Linked DNA regions of Homo sapiens. The protein of the gene in region 1 interacts with the protein of each later gene in a pairwise test. Each region holds a gene or a part of one and is shown on either strand. Other genes may lie near its edges.

Region 1 (3,414 bases):
CTTGAACCCGGGAGGCAGAGGTTGCAGTGAACCGAGATCGCGCCACTGCACTCCAGCCTGAGTGACAGAGTGAGACTCTGTCTCAAAAAAAAAAAAAGAAAAGGTGGCTGATGAGAGACCATTCATCCAATAAATATTTATTACTGTCTACAGTTCATTGAGGGTTTAGAATACAGAGATGAACGACCCATGTCATGAATAGGACTATGGAGGATACAGAATCTGGGGGAAAAAAGGAAACCCAAGATAAATTTTTAGATTATGAATTAATGATGCCTCTGAAACATTTCTTCCCAGTTTTGAGAACTAAATAGTTCTTGTAGATATGGAAAGCCATCTAAAAACCACAGTCTGTTAATTTGGCTAGTTTATATGCAGCTACCTTCAAAAGAACCTAGATATTCTCCAAAGGAGATATACAAATGGGCTGGGCAAAGTGGCTCACACCTGTAATCCCACCCCTTTGGGAGACTGAGGCATGAGCATCGCTGGAACCCAGGAGTTTGAGACCACCTGGGCAACATAGTGAGAGCCTGTCTCAAAATTTTAAAATTAAAAAAGAAAAATGACCAAATGACCAAAAAATACATGAAAAGATGCTCGATATCATTAGTCAATAGAGAATGCAATCAAAACCACGATAATAAGGTACCACTTCAAATCCACTAGGATGGCTATCATTAATGAAATGGAAAATAGCAAGTGTTGGTGATGATGTAGATAAACTGGAACCTTACACGTTGCTGGTGGGAATATAAAACAGTTCAGCCTCCATGGAATAAGCTTCTCAGTTCCTCAAATGAATTGCCATATGACCCAGCAACTCCACTCCTAGGAGTATAAATAAAAAACTGGTATTTAAACAAATGCCTATACACACAGGTATCTGTATATTCATAGCAGCACCATTCACAAAAGCCAAAAGGTAGAAACAGCCCAAAACATCCATCAGTGAATAAGTGGATAAACAAATTGTGGACTGTCCTTCCAATGAAATATTATTCAGCTGTAAAAAGAAACGAAGTTCTGATACATTCTACAACATGGATGAGCCTCAAGCAGAAGCTGGAGGGTCAGGAGAAAAGAACCTAGATACTAGAACTAGAAAGCCTCTTTACTCATTAAATAATCCCATTGTATCTGGATATTTTCCACTAAATAGAGTATCAAAAATAACATTTTTATTATGCCTACTTCAAATAAATCATACCGCACACGTTTCTATTTCTTCCTCTTTGCCCTCATTTCAGCCATCTTTAGTAAGAGTGGCTCATCAGTTGATGGGAAGAACGTTTGTTTCCTGGGTCAGGTATTGTTTTTAAAATACCATGACCCATTTACAGTATAAATAAAGAACTAGACTCTGCACAGACTTAAAACCTAGGAACATGAATGGACAACAGCATAAATACATACAATTATTATGTATCAATTAAACATTTTTTTTTAATAGAAGACACAAGGGAGGTTTTGCCTTGACCGAAGTTATTCCTGGTTCAAATGCCTCCTGAAAATGACTTCCTAGTGGAAAATACAATCTCTCCAGTCCTCTAGCAAATGGTTCTTTCCCTTTTGAGAAAGTTACTGTGTGGTTCAGTAATTTCCAAATAGTGTTCAACTAACTATATTAGAATTGCCTTGGGAGCTGTTATTTTTTTAAGTGTAGGAATCAGCCACCCCCAACTGTATATTTCTGATTGAGTGAGCTAGAGTGCAGCCTAGATATCTGTATGTCTTTAACACTGTCAGATCATTATGAAGTGTAATGTGTTTGAAAACTGCTACAGCTGAGCAGTTGTGGTTTTTTGTTTGTACAAGCAAAACAAAGATTGCGAGTGGTGTAGTATACCATGGAGGCTTAAAAAGAAAGACAATAATAAGAATTGTATTGTTTTTACAAAGGGATCCACTTTATACATATTGGACATTAATCGTCATCCTTGAATGTGTCATTACAGATGAACTGAGCGCCAATGGACAATATCAATGTCTTGCTGAACTGTCCACCAGCCCCATCACAGTCTGTCATGGCTCCGGTATCTCCTGTGGCAATGCACAAAGTGATGCAGCTCACAATGCTTTGCAGTATTTAAAGATAATAGCAGAAAGAAAGTAAATCTGGAGCAACTTAAAAAATCTTTCAGTAGCACATAAAAAGTTCCCCTCTGGCCCCTTCCCAAGTAAAACTTTTACCGTAGTGTTTATGTCTTGTTTCTAAATCTCTTCATAGATTCCATCAACACTCCAGATTTAATTATCTCCTCATAGTTGTTATTAAGCTCTTTTTAATGGCTTCAACTTTGTATCAGTATACTGTATTTATAAACTTTGTACCACAAGAGAGAGTGTAGCACCCATTTTACAGTGCCATGCACATCAGAGAAAGAAACTGCATGTTTGTTGTTGATGATGAAATAAAAATGCTAGCGACAGTCTTTCTTACTGGTGCTTAAGCTCTTCTTTGCACAAAGCTTTATAAAGGGAATTCAAAGGAAGCCCTTTAGAATTAGAGTCTTGAGGGACAGCACTAACAGGCCTTTATTAAGTATGATTGATTGTTAAATTTCAGGGAACATGATTGGTCTGCTGTGTATTTGAATTCATGTAACAAAGAACTGTTACGATGGGATTCTGCTCATTTTATTAAAAAGCTACTGACTTGACTGTCATCCTGTTCTTGTTAGCCATTGTGAATAAGATTTTAATGTTGATAATTCTGTTATTTACATATCTCTAATTTACTTTGAAATTCAAAGGTGAAAATAAAAAATGATGGCCTAAGTAAAATTTACAAACATACATGTAATGGGTTACTTCCTTACTTTCTCTAAGCGTATGCAACCTTGTATTTTTCTTTGACATAACCATACACAGGTGAATTACTAGTTTAAAAAGCATTTGACCATGCATGTTGGCTCATGCCTATAATCCCAACTCTTTCGGAGGCCAAGGTGGGAGGATCCCTTGAGGCCAAAAGTTTGAGACCAGCCTGGGCAACATAGTGAGTCCCCATCTCTACCAAAAAGAAAATCAGGTGTGGTGGCACACTTTGAGTCCCAGCTACTCAGGAGGCTGAGGTGGGAGGATTGCTTGGGCCCAGAAGATCAAAGCTGCAGTGAGCTAGGATCACAGCACTGCACTCCAGCCTGGGTGACAGAGTGAGACCCTGTCTCAAAAAAAAAAAAAAAAAAAAAAAAAAAAAGCGTTAGTAGAATTACCCAAAAAACCTTCCCAGCTTATTCAGTTCAGTTGCAAGAATGTTCCAAAGTGATGAGTGATTAAAAGGTTAGGAAATAAGTCTAATGAACAGATTTTAACCTTACCTTTTGTGTTTCCATATATAATCTTGTAACATCTCAAGTCTTCCATCTGTCAGCGCCGGCTCGTGCTAGCTTTCTACATTAGGTGGAAGTC
Region 2 (3,752 bases), on another chromosome or scaffold:
AAGGCAGTGGGGCACCTGCCATTTGCTGCAGAGGACGCAGCTGAAGATAAGGACTACAGCCATTCAAGGCCCCAGGGGAGGCCAGGGCAGGACTGGGACCAGAGCCTCACCAAAGACATGGAGATCCTAGGATAAGAAGGCTGAAGGGTTAGTTTCTGGATCATCTGAAATTTGATATTTTAAAAGCTTTCTTTAAAAGACGCTTTTATAATTCTCTCTTAAAAAATTCAGCCCATTTTGTCCTTTGCCATTTTTGAATTGGGTTATAGGTCTTGTACTTATTGATTTATAAAAGCTCTTTCATTTTAGAAACATTAATAATAAATATTTTACCTAGTTAAGAAAATTTAGCTGCCAAGTGATGTCTTTTCCATATGGTGACAAATACATTAAGGAGAGGGGAAGGTCAAAATTTGTGCTTTATGATTTCTTCTTAATTTTTAAAAATTTTTAATTTTATGGGAACATAGTGGGTGTATATATTTATGGGGTACACGAGATATTTTGATACAGGCATGCAATGTGTAATAATCACATTAGGGTAAATGGGGTATCTGGCACCTCAAGCATTTAGCATTTCCTTTTGTTACAAACAATCCAATTGTACTCTTTCAGTTATTTTAAAATGTACAATATGTTTTGCTGACTGTAATAACCCTGTTGTGCTGTCAAATACCAGATCCTATTCATTCTATCTAACTCTATTTTTGTACCTAGTAACCATTCCACCCCCGCCCCTTCCTAGCCTCTGGTAACCATCATTCTATTCTCTCTGTCCATGAGTTCAATTGTTTTAATTTTTAGCTCTCACAAATGAATGAAAACATGTGAAGTTTGTCTTTCCATGCCTGTTTTATTTCATTTAACAGAATGTCCTCCAGTTCCATCCATGGTGTTGTAAATGACAGGATCTCATTCCTTTTTATGGCTGAATAGTACTCCACTACGCATATGTACCACATTTTCTTCATCTAATTTATCTGTTGATGGACACTTACATTGCTTCCAGATCTTGTCTATTGTGAACAGAGCTGCAATAAACATGGCAGTGCAGGAATCTCTTCAAGATACTGATTTCTTTTTTGGGGGTATATACCTAGCAGTGGGATTGCTGGATCAGATGGTAGCTCTATATTTAGTTTTCTGACAAACCCCAATACTGTTCTCCATAGTGGCTGCATTAATTCACATTCTCACCAGCAATGTAGGAGGGTTCATTCTCTTTTCTTCACATCCTTGCCAGCATTTGTTATTGCCTGTCTTTTGGATAAAAGCCATTTTAACTAGGGTGAGACTTTATGATTTCTTGGTGAACAAGGAAAAGTGTTTAAGCTGTCCCCACCCTTTGATGGGTATGTTCTCTCTTCACGTGCGTAGGTTGTTGATGAAAGTCTAAGCGATTAATTTAAGCCATGTCAGAATAAACCAAAGTGAGGGTCCCAGCAGAATCATTCACTCTAGAATGCTCGGCTTTCTGGACCTCCCAGTGAGAACAGTGAGAAACTCCAGAGTTTTATGGATTTTAAGAATAGCTCTTCTGAGACTCTTTGGACAGGGTGCAAAGGAAAATTGTCTCCTCAGGTTGGGGGATGAGGGGGACTGTGAGATAAAGTACTGATAGATAAACTCCAGGTATGCACCTACTATGCTCCCCAAGCAATCTGCCATGTCCTTCACATGTCCTCCAGGGTGGCCCTGTGAAAAGCATTACTCCATCCCTTCAGCCCTCAACCTTGCTCGGCTTTCTAGAGTCTGTCTCATGCCGGCAGACACCCCATAGTTATTATTCTCTCTGCCCTCAGCAACATTTACCAGTTAGGGGGAAAATAAAGCCAGAAAATTGTTGCTATGGGCTCTGTTTTGTGGAAGTTAAAATGCTAGAGCAAGAATCTGATTGCTTGATAGCTCCATCTCTCTCTCTCTCTCCCTCCTACCCTCCTACCCCCCCACAGTTTCTCCTTCTTTTCCTCTCCCCTCCACCTCCTTCCCCCACCCCGCTCCCCCACATTTTCCTACTCCTCTCCCCTCTCTCCACTGGCCTCCCGGTCCTGCCCCCACATTGGGCTGGAGGAGAGCCTTACAGGTTGTCAATGAAACATGGAATTATTTCCTTTGATGGCTTAGATAATAGTAGGAGCCAAAGCAATGAGTGAGGTCGGCTGAAACCAATGCAGTCCTGCCCGGGACTGGAGAGCCAATCGCAAGAGCAGAGGGCGGGGCGTCGGAGCCAGCAGATAATTGCTAAGTGCATCGCTAGCACAGTTGGTCCGAGCTGCCGAAAGGTCTGGTCGCAGAGACAGGAACGTGTAATCCTCAGCGTGCTCCAGCCCACAGCTTCGCTCTACTGCTCGGCAGGGCAGCTGGCCTCTGGGCACCGGCGGCCCCTCTGCCTCGCGGAAAAGGTACCTCTGCCTGCGTCCCGGGGGTGCAGCGCCTGCGTCTCCATTGCCAGTGGCTTTGCAGTTTAGCCTAGGTGGAGGGATTGCAGAAAGAAAAGTTTCTGGGAGGGAATGTGATAAAGGTGGGAAATCACTGTCTTTTGTTGGGAGGAAAACAAGCGGACAATTTGGGAAACTTCTGCGCTGGCAAGAAATGGGCTTGTTTACTACTCCTAATTAGCTGCGCTCAGGTCTGTCTAAATAGGTCTGGTCTCAGGCTAGGGTGTCTGCAGGGCTGGGGTGGAGATTCGGGTGTGCTGGGTGAAAGAAGTTGGATCCCAGGGTGTGCTGTTTCCTGGTGCACCCATCATGGATAGGCTGGTTCCGAGAGAAACGTGATTGGTTGTTTGTGTTTTCCGCTATAGGGTCTGTCCCCTTCGTATTACCTTGATCTGCCTTCCCCAAACTATTGTGACCTTCAACTGGAGTCCTTCCTCAAACTTCTGCCTCCTTCCTGCCTGTCTCAGTTCATTTTATTTGGTGGAAGGAGACATTCCCCGGGGTGGGTGGGTGAGGATGGTCTATTCTGTTTGACCTGGTGGGCACCTACGTGACAACTTGGTGACACGCCAGCAAAACAGTTCTCAGAGGAGAGGAAATCACATAATTAATTAGCTCCCGAAAACTCTGGAAGACTTTCCAGGCTTGGGGTATCCTGAAAAAAAAAAAAAAAGAAAAAGCCAAAAAACGGGATAGAGAGTTCGGTTTGGTACCATGTGAAGCTTACACCCTTGTCCCCAGAAGGGGTGCCTGGCCCGGAGCATCCCCGCAGCTCTGGGAGGTGGAGGCTGGTGGAGGGGGTGGCTCCGTGTAGGTGCGCAGGTTGTTTTGGTGCACAGGTGCATTTGTGGCAGAGGTGGTGCTGAAGTCACCATCCACACTGCTTCTGCTAACTGCTCTTGAAGTAAAACAGCTCACCCCGGCAGGCAGCTGGTTCAGCCCAGAAGCACCCTTGAGCATTCTAAATCGCGAGACCTCAGGGGCCTCTCTTGCTCTGAGACCCTTGGGAAACTCCTTTCTCCCCCTGCCTCCTCCGCCTTTGGCTTCTGCTAAAGGGAGATATTAGGTAGGTGAGTCACTAGGAAGCAGGGACCCATGGGGAAGCAGGCGATGTGCTTGGTCTCGAACTTTCTTCCTCTTCTGCGAAGGCAGCTTCTGCTTGTGTGCCCACCGCACTTCACCAGTTGCGCTGCCTACCTGCGGGATACTCTGAAGCTGATAGTCTGGGGGTGATCTTCCAAGTCCTAGGGGCATTGAAGAGTTTAGATGATTTTCATCCCTCTGATTTCCGTTAAACCCGCAGCTGGGGAGTTC
Region 3 (3,752 bases), on another chromosome or scaffold:
ACTCCTGACCTCAAATGATCCACTCGCCTCAGCCTCCCAAAGTGCTGGGATTACAGGCATGCGCCACCACACCCGCCTAATTTTGGTACTCTTAGTAGAGATGGGGTTTACAGGGTTTCACCATGTTGGCCAGGCTGGTCTCTATCTCTTGACCTCAGGAGCTGCCTGCCTCGGCCTCCCAAAGCGCTGGGATTACAGGCGTGAGCCACCGCACCCAGCCCTGTACCAAAGTTATTAAATGGAGGAAGCAGAAATTAATTTGGGAGGGAGGGTCAGGGAAAACTTCCTGGAAGACACATCTATGCTGAAATGTGAGTTAAGTTTGCCAGACTAAAAAAATGAGAGGGCTCACTTTCTTTGAGTATTCAGGAGGACAAACAAACAAACAACAACAACCAAACCCAAAAACAGTACGAGAGCACAAACAAGACTGAAGTACACATATGTGCCCTGAACACAAAAAACATCTTGAGCACCCTGCTTTTAAGCCTCCTGGCCATTCTGTCACTTCTGTTGGAAAGTATTTCCCTCCTTGTCCATTTCTGTGAATTCCTTCTGTTATGGTTAAACTGTTCCCCCAGCACTCCAGAATGTGATTGTATTTGGAGATCAGGCTTGTAAGAAGGTAATTAAGTTAAAATGAGGCCATTAAGGTGGGCCCTAATACAACCTGACTGACGTTCTCATAAAGAGGAAATCTGGATGCAAAGAGAGACGCCAGAGATGTGAAAACACAGAGGAAAGACCATGCGAGGACACAGCAAGAAAGCAGCCACGTGCAAGCCAAGGAGAAATGTCTCAGAAGAAACCAAACCTGAAGACACCTTGATCTTGGACTTCTAACCTCCAGAACTGTGAGAAAATAATAAATTTCTGTTGTTTAAGCCACCCAGTATTTTGTTTGCAGTCCTAGCAAACTAATACACCTTCTATTCCAGGCCCAACACTGCTCACTTTCAGAGTGAAACCTTATCACCCATATACACACACCTTGGGAGTGAAGGTTTCTCACAATACTCTGTGCATCCTCCACTCAACTTTCATTCATTCATTTAAGCAACAAACACCTAGTGACCACCACTGTGTGCCAGACCCTGTTTTAAGGGCTGAGAAGAGCTAACGTTTATTGAGTACTTACTAAGTGGCAGCCACTAGTCTAAGCGATTTACATGCACCAACTCATGAAATACGACAAGGTTCCAGGGACGCAGGTGCCGCTATGACATTCGCTTTACAGATGCGGGGCTGAGGCACAAAGAGGCCACACCGTAATGAAACTGAGCTAGGCTGTGGGCTCTGTCGTCTTAAGCGCTACTCTCAACTACAGCGTGGAAGGAAACAGAAGCCGAGAGATGGGCAGCGCGTAGCGGAGGCGGGCCGGGCTGGCTTCCAGCGGGCAAAGCCTGGAGATGAGAGGGCGCGGGTGGGGTTTCCAGGCCGAGGAAGCTGCACCAGGGAGAAGGCCCGGCTCCCAGGCCCGGAACCTGGCCGTCTGGGTCTCAGTCCGCGTCCCCTGTGATGCCCGGCACAGAGCAAATGCTCGCTGACTCTCGCAGGAGCCGCCAACCCCCCGGGTATCCTCGAGTGCCCAGAGACGGGAAGGAGCGGTGGGTCCATGCCCTTCTGGGCCACCTTCGGGCGCCCGGCCTCCCTTCCCTTCCGGGCCATTCCCACCAGCGCCAGCCCCGCACGCCTTCGCAAGGCCGGCCACCTTACCCTCGGAGGCCGCTCTCTGCCCCGCCGCCTACTCTTCACCTGCAGCAGCTGCCTTCAAGGCCACTCGCAGCGATCCGCTGGCCGCGGAATCATCACGACAACGCCCCCTTGGCTTGCCGGAACCGCCTTCCTGCTTCCGTTGGCGTCACTTCCACTGGGGGGGGCGTGGCCGCGGTGCGCAGGCGCGCTGGGTGGTTCAGAAGCGAATTCTGCACCGCGAAGCCTGAGAGGCAGGTAGCTGCGGCGCTGGGCTGGCGGCGGCGAGTCCACGTGCTCCCCGCGGCCGGTTGAAACCGTTGGCGGGCGCTGGCTGAGAGGTGAGGGGTGGTGGCCCAGAGGTCCGACCTGGGAGGCTGGGGCTCAGAGAGTGAGTAGGGGAGGGACGGGATTTCCACCGTCAGCCCCTCTGGGTTACGCATGGAGGAAGGAGTTCCATTCAGATCTCACTCCTGCTCTGGGGAAGTGGCAGGAGTCCTGGACTTAGGGTGACCAACTCGTTTTAGTTTTAAAACTTAAGGTCCGGCGTCCTGGGAACTCCCTCGGGCCTGGCCAAACCAGGACGATTGGTCACCGCCCGACTGGGCTTCAGGCTTGCTGCATGTTGGAGACAGGGCTCTTCTCTGAGCCTTGGGAGATCAGTCCCTAAAGAGGAGGCCTTAGGATGTAGCGGTCCAGAGCACATACTTAGGATCAGAATAACTACTGCGTGTGAATCTGGGTTGCCACTACCTGGATGTGGGATGACCTGGTGTAAGTTTTTTAACCTCTTTGCGCCTCACTTTCCTCATCTGTCATAACATATAGAATCTAACTCGGAGAACTGTGATGAGGATTACATGAGTAGAAATGTGTTAACCTCCTATGAGAGGGCTTGGGTGCTCCATGAATGTTAGGATTCTCTGAAGCACCTACCTCTGAGGAGAGAGGGAGGAGGATGAGGTGGGGTCTGTATTTGCAACCCTGATTTCTAGCAGAGAGGGCCCACTTGGGACTTACTCACACTGTGCCCGAGGCTCCCAGGGTCTAGCATAGTGCCTGACACATGGTAGTTACTCGAGTGAAGGGATGGTGTTTAAAACAGTGCTGGTGATGCCGTGGGTGGGGTAGGAGGCAGAGAGAAATGGCTTCTGTGCCTCAGTTTGCTCATCTGTTTAGTGGAGATAGGTGCACCTACTTCCCAGGGCTTTTGCAAGGAACAAGGGAGAGATTCTCTCCTTGTGAATGTCACCCATTGTAACCCTTGTCAGCCTCATACACAAAGGTTTAGGCAGGATGGTGGACAGAGTATGTTTGTCTGTCCTTCTCTTGCACCATACCCATGGTTTCTCAGAATGCTACCCGTGGAAGGGGCTTGAGTCTTGTCAAGTTGGCCTGACTTCTTGTTTCACAGATGAGATAACTTGAAGTTTATAGAGGCAGTGGCATGCTCAGGGTCACAGTGTTCAGTGGGGGATATCCTGGGGTTGCCAGCTAGGCCCCTCAGGTGGGCTGTTTGAGTGGTAGTGGTGGTAATGATGTGTAGGTCAGTGTCTGCATGTGCATGCAAGAATATTTTAAGAATAGTCAAGGCCAAGCGCAGTGGCCCGTGCCTGTCATCCGAGCACTTTGGGAGGCCGAGGAGGGTGGATCACCTGAGGTCAAGAGTTCACAACCAGCCTGGCCAACATGGTGAAACTCCGTCTCTACTAAAAATACAAAAATTAGCCGGGCATGGTGGCATGTGCCTGTAATCCCAGCTACTGGGGAGGCTGAGGCCGGAGAATCACTTGAACCTGGGAGGCAAAGGCTGCAGTGAGCCGAGATTGCGCCATTGTACTCCAGCCTGGGCAACAGAATGAGACTCCGTCTCAAAAAAAAAAAAAAAAAGAAAAAAAATTGAATAAGTAATACAAAAATATAGAGGGAAGAAGATTTAAAAAAAATCATTCCAATCTCAGAACCAAACCTAAGGGCATGTTATCAGGGAACTTGGTAAAGTAGGCAGCCATGGGGTGAGGAGCCAGAGAAGGTTGGAGTGAATTTATGAACATAAATGG

Evidence for each region.
Region 2: the proteins of PRKRA (region 1) and ZMAT4 interact in binary tests that used the Homo sapiens proteins (3 or more experiments, as listed by UniProt).
Region 3: the proteins of PRKRA (region 1) and LYAR interact in binary tests that used the Homo sapiens proteins (3 or more experiments, as listed by UniProt).

What each region holds. Positions count from the first base shown.
Region 1 is NC_000002.12:178,430,799-178,434,212, reverse strand, and holds the end of PRKRA (interferon-inducible double-stranded RNA-dependent protein kinase activator A), read left to right. Parts: intron 1-121; exon of another isoform or gene 122-831; intron 832-1,958; coding exon 1,959-2,116; 3' UTR 2,117-2,799; downstream 2,800-3,414. UniProt on the Homo sapiens protein: Activates EIF2AK2/PKR in the absence of double-stranded RNA (dsRNA), leading to phosphorylation of EIF2S1/EFI2-alpha and inhibition of translation and induction of apoptosis.
Region 2 is NC_000008.11:40,896,333-40,900,084, reverse strand, and holds the start of ZMAT4 (zinc finger matrin-type protein 4), read left to right. Parts: upstream 1-2,258; 5' UTR 2,259-2,402; intron 2,403-3,752.
Region 3 is NC_000004.12:4,288,317-4,292,068, reverse strand, and holds the start of LYAR (cell growth-regulating nucleolar protein), read left to right. Parts: upstream 1-1,914; 5' UTR 1,915-2,033; exon of another isoform or gene 2,034-2,466; intron 2,467-3,752. UniProt on the Homo sapiens protein: Plays a role in the maintenance of the appropriate processing of 47S/45S pre-rRNA to 32S/30S pre-rRNAs and their subsequent processing to produce 18S and 28S rRNAs. Also acts at the level of transcription regulation.